3 linked regions of the Homo sapiens genome follow. The protein of the gene in region 1 purifies or fractionates together with the protein of each later gene. This does not show direct contact. Each region holds a gene or a part of one and is shown in the gene's direction. Other genes may lie near its edges. The genes, in order: UBE4A, PPP4R3A and ANKRD22.

Evidence for each region.
Region 2: the proteins of UBE4A (region 1) and PPP4R3A fractionate together in Homo sapiens (co-fractionation; one large-scale study listed by BioGRID). This does not show direct contact.
Region 3: the proteins of UBE4A (region 1) and ANKRD22 purify together in Homo sapiens (co-immunoprecipitation; one large-scale study listed by IntAct). This does not show direct contact.

What each region holds. Positions count from the first base shown.
Region 1 is NC_000011.10:118,369,543-118,373,276, forward strand, and holds part of UBE4A (ubiquitin conjugation factor E4 A), read left to right. Parts: intron 1-1,971; coding exon 1,972-2,124; intron 2,125-2,964; coding exon 2,965-3,124; coding exon of another isoform or gene 3,125-3,145; intron 3,146-3,543; coding exon 3,544-3,734.
Region 2 is NC_000014.9:91,479,311-91,482,810, reverse strand, and holds part of PPP4R3A (serine/threonine-protein phosphatase 4 regulatory subunit 3A), read left to right. Parts: intron 1-617; coding exon 618-1,235; intron 1,236-3,500. UniProt on the Homo sapiens protein: Regulatory subunit of serine/threonine-protein phosphatase 4. May regulate the activity of PPP4C at centrosomal microtubule organizing centers.
Region 3 is NC_000010.11:88,827,667-88,831,400, reverse strand, and holds part of ANKRD22 (ankyrin repeat domain-containing protein 22), read left to right. Parts: intron 1-2,734; coding exon 2,735-2,842; intron 2,843-3,734.

The sequences.
Region 1 (3,734 bases):
TCTTACGTTCCTAATGTGTGCCCTTAGCAAAAATTAGCTATGCGGCTGAATTCTGCTCACTGTTCTCCAACTTATGCTTGTGTCCATATGTCCATCCCTCTCTCTTTTTTTTTTTTTTTTTTTACCAGTAGAAGGCCAAGTAACCTGGATGTGCATCTCTAACATTGTGGTGTTCCTCTTTTGGAATCTTTTCATCTACCATGGCCACATGCCCAAATCTACCCATCCTCTAAGAACCAGTTAAAATGCCTTCTTAATTACAAAGCCTTGGCCAGGCACATTGACTCACGCCTGTAATCCCAGCACTTTGGGAGGCTGAGGCAGGTGGATCACGAGGTCAGGAGATCAAGACCATCTGGCTAACATGGTGAAACGCCGTCTCTACTAAAAATACAAAAAATTAGCTGGGCATGGTGGTGGGCGCCTGTAGTCCCAACTACTTGGGAGGCTGAGGCAGGAGAATGGTTTAAACCCAGGAGGCGGAGGTTGCAATGAGCCGAGATCATACCACTGCACTCCAGCCTGGACAACAGAGCAAGACTCCGTCTCAAAAAAAAAAAAGAAAAAATTACAAAGCCTTGCCAAATAAAAGTTGTTACTCCCTCCTCTGGGTACCTAGAATAATCAGCCTCTGAATCTCTTGTGGGAATTGTCACTTTCTGTCTCATGTTGCGGCTTTCTTATGTACCTGTCTTATCTCCCCTATTAGACTTAAGTTCTTAAGGGCAAGGCCCATCGCTTTTTCTTCTTTATATCCTTTCTATCTTAGTCTGTTTTGTGTTGCTATAAAAGAATACCTGTGACTAGGCACAGTGGCTCACATCTGTAATCCCAGCACTTTGGGAGGCCAAGTTGGGAGGATCTCCAGGCCAGGAGTTACCAGCCCTGGCAACATAACAAGACCATGTTTCTACAAAAAATACAAAGAATTAACTGGGTGTGATGGCATGTACCTGAAGTCCTAGCTACTCAGGAGGCTGAGGTGGGAGGATTGCTTGAGCCTGGGAGGCAGAGGCTGCAGTGAGCCATAGTCACACGACTGCACTCCAGCCTGGGCGACAGAGCAAGAAAGACCCATCTAAAAAAAAAAAAAAGAACACCCAAGCAGTAATTTATAAAGAAAAGTTTATTTAGCTCACAGTTCTGCAGGCTGAGAAGATTCAGGGTATGTCCTTGGCCTCTGGTGAGGGCTTTTGTGCTGCCTCACAATGTGGTGGAGGAAGTCACCAAAGGACACATACCATGAGGACGCATGCAAGGAGGAGAAAACCTGAGAGGTGTCCTGGCTTAATAAGAACCCGCTCTGGAGGGAATTTGTCCATTCCTATGAGAATTAATCCAGTCTTGTGAGAGCAAGAACTCATTCAGCACCTTGAGAAAAGCACCAAGCAATTCAGGAGGGATCCGCCTCCATACCCAGACACCTCCCACTAGCCCCACCTCCAACAGTGCCACATGGAGATCAAATTTCAACATGAATTTTGTTGGAGACAAACATATAAACCACAGCACTTTAAAAATCAAAACAGTGCGTTGTACCTTGCAGGTGCCTGAGTAACATTAAAAGAATAAAAGTTTGGTAGGAAAGACAGTTGACAGCTTGCAGTTTAACTTCACATTTGGAGTATCTTTATATAAGTCTGAATGAGATCAGCAATCACACAGAATAGTAGATTTCACATCTAAGTTTAATCACTGATCTCAGCACCATTCAACAAATAGTCTTTTAATGCCTACTCTATGCTGGGGCTATACTAGACACTTGAGGCTTGATTTAGGATAACTTTATATATGCCATAATTTTCTAAAATTTTCTAAAGTAAAAATATACAGGGCCCTTTTTTTCTCCTTCACTCTACATTCAAATCTGTGATTCTTGCTAATAACCTGTGTCAGAATTACCTTTTACATCTTAATGTTCTCAGATTAATTTTGCAATAGTTTAGTATTTTTGTTTGGTTTTCTTTATAGGCCCTCTTCGCTCGCTTATTACTTCAAGATCCAGGCAACCACTTAATTAACATGACTTCTTCTACAACGCTAAATCTCTCTGCTGATCGAGATGCAGGAGAGAGGCACATTTTTTGTTACCTTTACTCCTGCTTCCAGAGAGCCAAGGAAGAGGTAAAGGAATAATCCCCATTGAATACTGTATTGTCCTCTTGGGTATGACTTCAGCATGTGGGCCAGAGTTGGATCAGTCTTTATTTCAATTTATATATGTCATAGTATGTCTAGAAGTGAATATCAGGGACACTAAAGCTTTTATATCAATTTATATATGTCATAGTATGTTTAGAACACTGGATATCAGATGCACTAAAGCTTTAGTCTCCTTTCCGTATCTTGGGGTCCACCCTTCTCCCCAGTTAACCAATGCCTCCTATTCTCTCTAAAACCTCTTTAGAAATCACATCCTTAAAAAAATCTCATGAGGCTGGGCACAGTGGCTCACTCCTGTAATCCCAGCACTTTGGGAGGCCGATGCAGGCGGATCACATGAGGCCAGGAGTTCGAGACCAGCCTGGCCAACATGGCAAAACCTTTACTGAAAATACAAAAATTAGCCGGGCATGGTGGCACACATTTATAATCCCAGCTACTCAGGAGGCTGAGGCAGGAGAATCACTTGAACCTGGGAGGTGGAGGTTGCAGTGAGCTGAGATCACACCACTGCACTCCAGCCTGGGTGACAGAGCGAGACTCTGTCTCAAAAATCAGAAAAGGGCTCATGAATTCATTTCCACTGAGATGTAAATATTAGAGTAGGCTAAGCCGGATATTTCCAGGTTTGGAATTTTAAATAGGCAGATAGATGATTCCTTAAGCCAAGGAAGGAATCTCTAATTAATTTTCAAGCATCCACAGGAGACCAGTATGTCTCTTCTATTGTATTCACTATGTCTACTTTCGTTCCAGATTACAGAGTTAGACTATTCCCTCTTTTCTTCATGCTGTTTGCAGATTACCAAAGTTCCAGAGAACCTGCTACCCTTTGCAGTGCAGTGCAGAAACCTCACTGTGTCCAATACCCGAACAGTTCTTCTCACCCCAGAGATCTATGTTGACCAAAACATCCATGAGCAACTGGTAGATTTGATGTTAGAAGCCATCCAGGGAGCCCGTGAGTACATGAACAAGATCTGTAAGCTTCTACATTTTGATTTTCAGATTTAAAATTTCACTAATTGCATTAGAAAGTCTCAGAGCCATTATGGTTCTGGTATAAATTAAGGAGGAGGGCTCACATCTTGATCTTTGAGGTTGAGTACCAATAGAATAAAGCTGGGCATGGTAGCACACCCCTGTAGTCCCATCTACTCTGGAGGCTGAGGCAGAAGGATCCCTTGAGCCCAGGAGTTTGAGGCTGTAGTGTGCTATAATCACACCTGTGAATAGCCACTACACTCCAGGCTGAGCAAAAAAACAAGACCCCCAGCTCTAAAAAAAAAAAAAAAAGAATTATTGAAAGTAAAGAGCTAGTGTGTAAAGGCATATAAAAATTCTTGTGCCCTCCTTTCTCTCTCATTTGTCTTCTGTTAGATTTTGAAGATGTAACTGAGTTTCTGGAAGAGGTCATTGAAGCCTTGATATTGGATGAGGAAGTTAGAACATTTCCAGAAGTCATGATTCCAGTGTTTGATATTTTATTGGGCCGAATAAAAGATCTAGAGCTCTGTCAGATCCTTTTGTATGCATATCTGGATATTCTTCTCTATTTCACTAGGCAAAAA
Region 2 (3,500 bases), on another chromosome or scaffold:
TTATAGAAGATCAGTGACTCACTTTGGTCCAAAGCCAGTTTGTTCATGCTCTTTGGCCCTTGGTTTCTACAATCAATTGATGTTAAATATTTTCCTTTTTGCTTATAATTATATATATTTTCTGTGATCATAACATTATGATATTTGGTGTTTATTTGGTCTTCACCTCAGAGTTAAATATTGAAGAGTTTGGTGGTGGCAGTGTCCTTTAGCACAGTCCTAGGACTGTTTCTGAGACTTGCCTTGGTCTGCTGGAAAAGAGGGCCAGGGATATGAGATGTTAGTGGCTGTTTTAGCATCAGGCTTCTATGTTGTGGGTCTGCAGAGGGCTGTTTCGTAACAGTCTCACTTAGTTTAGCCTGTCCTAGAAAGTTGTTCTTGCCAGCAGACCTCATACTTTATAGGGAAGCTCATTCTGTTTTTGAACTTTGACTAACTTCCTTAAAATTGAAAGTATACATATTTGGAGAAATGTAATGTAGAAAAGTAGGCAGTTTTGTCTTGAAAATGACCATTATAGGTTTCTTACAACATTTCTAGTATTCATCTTAGAGTAGCATTTAGGTTTGCTGGTCACCTGTTATCTATTTTGTCAGCAATTAAATTTTTTTTCATAGGTTCAAGGAAAGGACCCTTCCGTGGACATCACTCAGGACCTTGTGGATGAATCTGAAGAGGAGCGTTTTGATGATATGTCATCGCCAGGCTTAGAATTGCCATCTTGTGAATTAAGTCGCCTTGAAGAAATTGCAGAACTTGTGGCATCATCTTTACCTTCACCTCTTCGTCGTGAAAAACTTGCACTGGCACTAGAAAATGAGGGTTATATTAAAAAGCTCCTGGAGCTTTTTCATGTGTGTGAAGATTTGGAAAATATTGAAGGACTGCACCACTTGTATGAAATTATCAAAGGCATCTTTCTCTTGAATCGAACTGCTCTTTTTGAAGTTATGTTCTCTGAAGAATGTATAATGGACGTCATTGGATGTTTAGAATATGATCCTGCTTTATCACAACCACGAAAACACAGGGAATTTCTAACAAAAACAGCCAAGTTTAAAGAAGTGATTCCCATATCAGATCCTGAGCTGAAACAAAAAATTCATCAGACATACAGAGTTCAGTATATACAAGATATGGTTCTACCAACTCCTTCGGTCTTTGAAGAAAACATGTTATCAACACTTCACTCTTTTATCTTTTTCAATAAGGTAGAGATTGTTGGCATGTTGCAGGTGAGTTAGATCATTCCTTTTTTCATATTTCAAGAGATGCAGCGAAAACAATTTGCTCCTTTTAAATACATACATTGAGTTTTAATTTTGTTAATGTATAAAGTTAAGTATTGTGAGTTATTTTAAGAGATTATAATATACAATAATAATACGAGACCAGAAGGTTACTCTATCTGGGGTAGGAGAGGTAAGTGTGACAAATGTAGTTTGAAGAAATGGTATGAGGGGATGATTTTTTGGATACAGGGTCTTGCTCTGTCACCCAGGCTGTAGGGCAATAATGCAGTCTCAGCGACTGCAACCTCCACCTTCGCTTCCCTGGCTGAAACAATCCTCCCACTGCAGCCTCCTGAGTAGCTGGGACCACAGGTGTGCACCACCACCCCCAGCCAATTTTTGTATTTTTTGTAGAGATGGAGTTTGTCATACTGCCCAGGCTGGCCTCAAACCTCTGAGCTCAAGCAATCTGCCTGCCCTGGCCTCCCAAAGTGCTGGGATTACAGGTGTGAGCCACTGGGCCCAGCCTGATTTTTTTTTTTTTAAGTTGAGGTCTTGCTCTGTTGCCCAGGCTGGAGTGCAGTGGCACAGCCATAGCTTATTGCAACCTTGAACTCCTGGGCTTGAGCCGTCCTCCCACCTCAGCCTTCCAATTAGCTAAGACTACAGATGCATGCTACCATAGCCACCTTTTAAAAATTTTTTTGTAAAGAATGGATCTCACTTTGTTGCCCAGGCTGGTCTCAAACTCCTGGCTTCAAGCAATTCTCCCACCTTAGCCTTGCAAAGTGTTGGGATTACAGTTGTGAGCCACCATACTCAACTATAGGAGGATAATATTAATGAAATGGTTGAATGCTGAACTTTGGGGTTATTACTCTATGAATTTTGCATAGAATAGAACAGATTGGAAGAGGAAAGAGTGAAGCACAAAGCCAAGAGAAATGTCACCAAACACAGAATATAAATTCTAATGAGAATTGTGGGCCAGGCGCTATGGCCTGTCTCTACCAAAAAAATAAAATTTAAAACGAATTTGTAAAATTCCCAGATAATGATACGGTAAAAGTCCAGTTTCAGGGTCTAGGGAATGTAGCAGAGGAGGCAAATTATAACTGCATGTATCCCTACCAAAAGCCACGTTTTGCTAAGGGGTGTGCCTGTGGGTGAGTTAAACCCATGTGAATTTGAGTTTCAGCTCCGTCTGTCACTTAATAACAGTAGCTATGTGAGTTGGGCAGCCTTAACTTCTTAAAGCTTCGGTTTCCCCATCTGAAGGATGGTGACATTAATGCCTACCCTGTAAAGTTGTCTGAAAATTAACTGAGGTCAGGCATGTAAAGAAAGTGTTTAATATGATGTAAGATTCATGGGAATTTTTTAAGTGTCTATTGATAATTGCTTATTAAAATGTAGATTTTTTTTTCTTATAGTATGCCCAATCTCTCTGATCTGGTGTTTTAGGGTATTTGCATCACAGTCCCCTAGGGTGCAGTATCATGAATTCTGCACAAAACCTGAGTCAAAGTCTCTGAGAGCTAGACAATAATTTGCGTTTGTAACACCCCCAAAATTAGAAAAGCTCTTACTGTGTCATCCCAGTGTGTGAATTGGTCTATTCTAACTGAAATAGAAGTTTACATAGGCTGGGCCTAGTGGCTTATACCTGTAATCCCACCACTTTGGGAAGCCAAGGCAGGAGGATCGATTGAACCCAGAAGTTAAAGACTAGCCTGGGGCTGGATGCGGTAGCTCACGCCTACAATCCCAGCACTTTGGGAGGCCAAGGCGGGTGGATCACCTGAGGTCAAGAGTTCAAGACCAGCCTGGCCAACATGGCGAAACCCCGTCTCTACTAAAAATACAACAATTAGCTAAACGTGATGGTGGACGCCTGTAATCCCAGACTCGGGAGGCTGAGACGAGAGAATCATTTGAATCTGGGAGGCGGAGGTTGCAGTGAGCTGAGATCACACCATTGCACTCTAGCCTGGGCAACAGGAGTGAAATTCTGTCTCAAAAAAGATTTTTTTTTTTTTTTAAATTAGCCAGGTATGGTGATGCATGCCTATAATCCCAGCCATGTGGGAGGCTGAGTTGGGAGAATCGCTTGAGCCCAGGAGTTTGAGTCTGCAGTGAGCAATGATCATGCCACCGCACTCAAGCCTGAGCAACAGAGTGAGACCCTATCTCAACAACAAAAAAATAAGTTTGTGTAGTACAAAGAAAGAATTGTTATTTGCACCCATACACACACACACACACACA
Region 3 (3,734 bases), on another chromosome or scaffold:
GTTCTTGTAGAATGAAAGAGTACTATTGAGAAATTTACCAAGGACAAATAAGCTCATGAGCCAGAGGTTACTTGAAGTCACACAAAAAGGTGTAAAGAATATATTTAAAGATGCAATATTAGCTACTTTGGAGCCTTCAGGACCAAGAAAGAGAAGAATATGTGTGTATTGCTGTGAAAATCCTTGTGGAGCCCTTTCTGAACATCTAGCATTTGCATCGTAGTGAAGGCAATATTTAAATTACACTGAATAAATATTAAGCCATTTTTTTGCAATCATTATGACTGTCCTGTACCCACTTATATGCATTCAAGGCGAGAAAACACTGGAAATCCCCCCTTGCCCCTTCTAAGTCATTTGGAGACTAGCTCATCAGGAGTAACAATGTATTATCAGAAAATTGATCATTACTGGACTTTTTTATTTATGCTTACTATTTTTGGTTTGGTTGCGATTAAAAGCAAGTCATGCCTGTGCTGAATGGAACAGATATGCAACATCGTGGACTATAATAGGATCTCTGTAGATCACTGCTGTGAAACCAGATATGTGGAGTTGCAGTGAGTGGTAGTGCCAGAAGACAGATGTCTGTGGGTTCCTGCGCTCTTTTAAGAGGTGCGCTCGTTAGGAAACTGAGGGAGGAGACGTTAGCCCATGGGCAAGGCTGAGGAGACACTTTTATCTCCGCTTTGCAGAAGAGGAGGGCCTCAGCCAGCCTGCTGGGATTTTCTGGTATCATAAAAACCATGAAAAAGACTTTAGTGGATACATTAGATTAATAGATTTTATCAGTAGAAGTTTTTGGTTTGCATTTTCCACTTTCAAATGTTTCTAATGTTAGCATTTAATATTTTTATTTTCTCCAAATATTAATATTTGTACATTAATAATTTGAACCTGTGATTTCTCATGTCTGAAATCTGTTTATAAATTATTTCCAGAAACACTAAACAAACAAACACCTTAAAAACAAACAAACAAACAAAAAGCTCTGCTGGAGATTCAGAAGCACAAGCCTATGGATTCTATTGATAGCAAATTAAATTAAAACATAAAGATCCTTGTTTTTGTCTGTCAAACTGACCAAGATTAAAAAAGAAAACAAATGTTGATCAGAAAGTTTAAGTTATTATTGTCTTATTAGAACACAATTTGATAGCGCAATATGAAAAGCATTAATACTTTTTATGCCAGGAATTCTATTTTTAGAAATGTAGGCAAAGGACAAATTTGGAAATGTTGACAAAAATTTATGAATGAGCAGGTTCAGGCAATATTATTTATAAAAATGAAAAGTTTAAAACTTGAAACGGGCCATGTGCAGTGGCTCATGTCTGGAATCCCAGCATTTTGGGAGGCCAAGGTGGAAGGATAGTTTGAGACCAGGAGTTCAAGACCTGCCTAGGCAACATAGCAAGACCCCCGCATCTCTACACAAAATAATAATAAGTAAAAAATTATCCAGGTGTGGTGGCACATGTTTGTAGTCCCAGCTACTTTGGAGGCTGAAGTTGAAGGATCGCTTGAGACCAGGAAGTCAAGGCTGCAGTGAGCTAGGATTGTGCCACTGCACTCCCGCCTAGGTGGCAAAGCAAGATCCTGTCTCACAGAAAAACAAAAACAAAAACAAAACCCTCAAAAACCATGAAATGTTCAAAAGGCAGGGCTTAGCTAAATACATCAGAGTAGTTCCACTCAATACTAAGCCATGCAGCCATTACAATCATATGTTTAAAAATATTGAATTGCATGGAAAAATGTACATATTCTAAATATACGTTTCTGAACTGAAAAAAGCAAGATATGATATTGCATATGCAATATCATTCTACATTTCAAAATTCCACATTTATGCATTTAAGAAGACTGGAAGAAAATACAACAAAATGTCAACAGTTAACTCTGGACCATTTAATATAATAATGGGCAATTTAAAATTCTATCGTTATGTTCCTCTCTAGTTTCTAAAATTTTTTTACAGAAAATATAAATGCCTTCATATTAGAAAAACAAAAAGTGTTCTTATTTAGGTACAGTGCCTTGCATAAGTGGAAACTAACCTCCTTTCTTTCTCTTGGGCTCCCTCTCCTCTTACTGATTTGATTGGTATTCCAATTACCACCTTCTGTTTTGCCTTATATTTATTTGTGCATATTTCTGTCCATCTTTGATTATGAGGCCCTAAGAGTTCACATCTCCCACAACCCTTGGAAGCTGACATCTATTACCTGATAAGTATTCACATATTTGAAGAATAAAATTGAGTTATATGCATTCTTCTAGACTATGCACATGAAGGAACATGAAAAACAGCCATGTGGTTAAGAGTTTTCCTATGAACAAACCACAAAATGGATAATCGTACACATGGTAGATGATTAAGGGATAACTATCAATTTTCATAGTAAATTCAGTCCTAAGTTTATATCTCAGTGTATCTTTTTTTCCAAAAACTAAGTGGGTATAAGAATCTGTCTTCTGATGAGCTCTGCTGTGTACATTTCACCTTTGTTGACTCCCAGGAGCCCTTCCCTAGCTTTTCCTTTACACTGGACCGAGTTCTCTGTTCTGCTCCATGGAAAGCCGCATTCAGTAATCAGATGTATCCCACAGGAAAAGATGCCATGGGTACCGGAAAAACAAAAAGCACAAACTAAACTTTTTGAGATGGCCATCTGAATAAATTTTGAATTGAAATGCTTTATTAGTAAAGAATCCTTTTCTTAATTTTTAGAAAGAGAGAACCTGCTTGCATTATGCTGTGAAGAAAAAATTTACCTTCATTGATTATCTACTAATTATCCTCTTAATGCCTGTTCTGCTTATTGGGTATTTCCTCATGGTGAGTACAACACTTGTAGAGCAAAGGGCAAATGTGGAGATCGATGGTGTGACTCATTGACTCTTGCCAGGCCAGTGAGATGTTGAAAAGAAATAAAAACAAAAAAAGCCTTTGGTTTGTATTCTGTAATTGACATGTTCAACATACATCCAATGCTATAATTGAAGTACAGCAAGAAGAAAGCTAGCAAAAATAGTTAATCAATGGTAACATAATCCATGCAATGTTGATTTAGAAAAATAATTTAACCTTAACTAAGACTTTTCTGAAGGGAGCAAAAAAATTCTGAATATTAAAAAACACCCCTTCTAATATTTTTTTCTCCTTTTTTTAAAAGAGGAGTTTGTGTTTTTGGATTTATCTTTCTGACTTACTGATTTTTAAGTACTCCTCTGGTGGTGTGTTGAAAAACAGATCCTAAAAGTTTGCATCCAGAAGCTGACACACACAGAAGATACTTGTTGAGAATTTAAGCCCATTTTCACCTTGATGAATTTCTTCATGCTTGGATGAATCTTGGCAGACAGCAATTTTCTTGAATAAAGAAAGATGTAGTTGGTATAGAGATGCAGTCATATGAGGAGTAGAAGATGAAGCTTGAGATGGTTTTTGGTTTTTTTTCCCAATAGGGTAACAGATCTGCACTGACTTACTCACTTTTATCCATCTAGTTTCCTTTGTGCCCAGTTCCACTTCTCAGACATGACTCAAGAGATGCATAATTTACTTTAATTAAATGACCAAGCTCCCTCCTTGTTGTAGCTCATAAACTGTGAATATTGGTTACACCTGTTAACATCAGCCGCAGAACAAGTCTGCCCGTCAAAAATGTTATTATTTCATTGGGTATTTAAATGCCACAGAATTTGAGGAACTATAATTAAACATGACA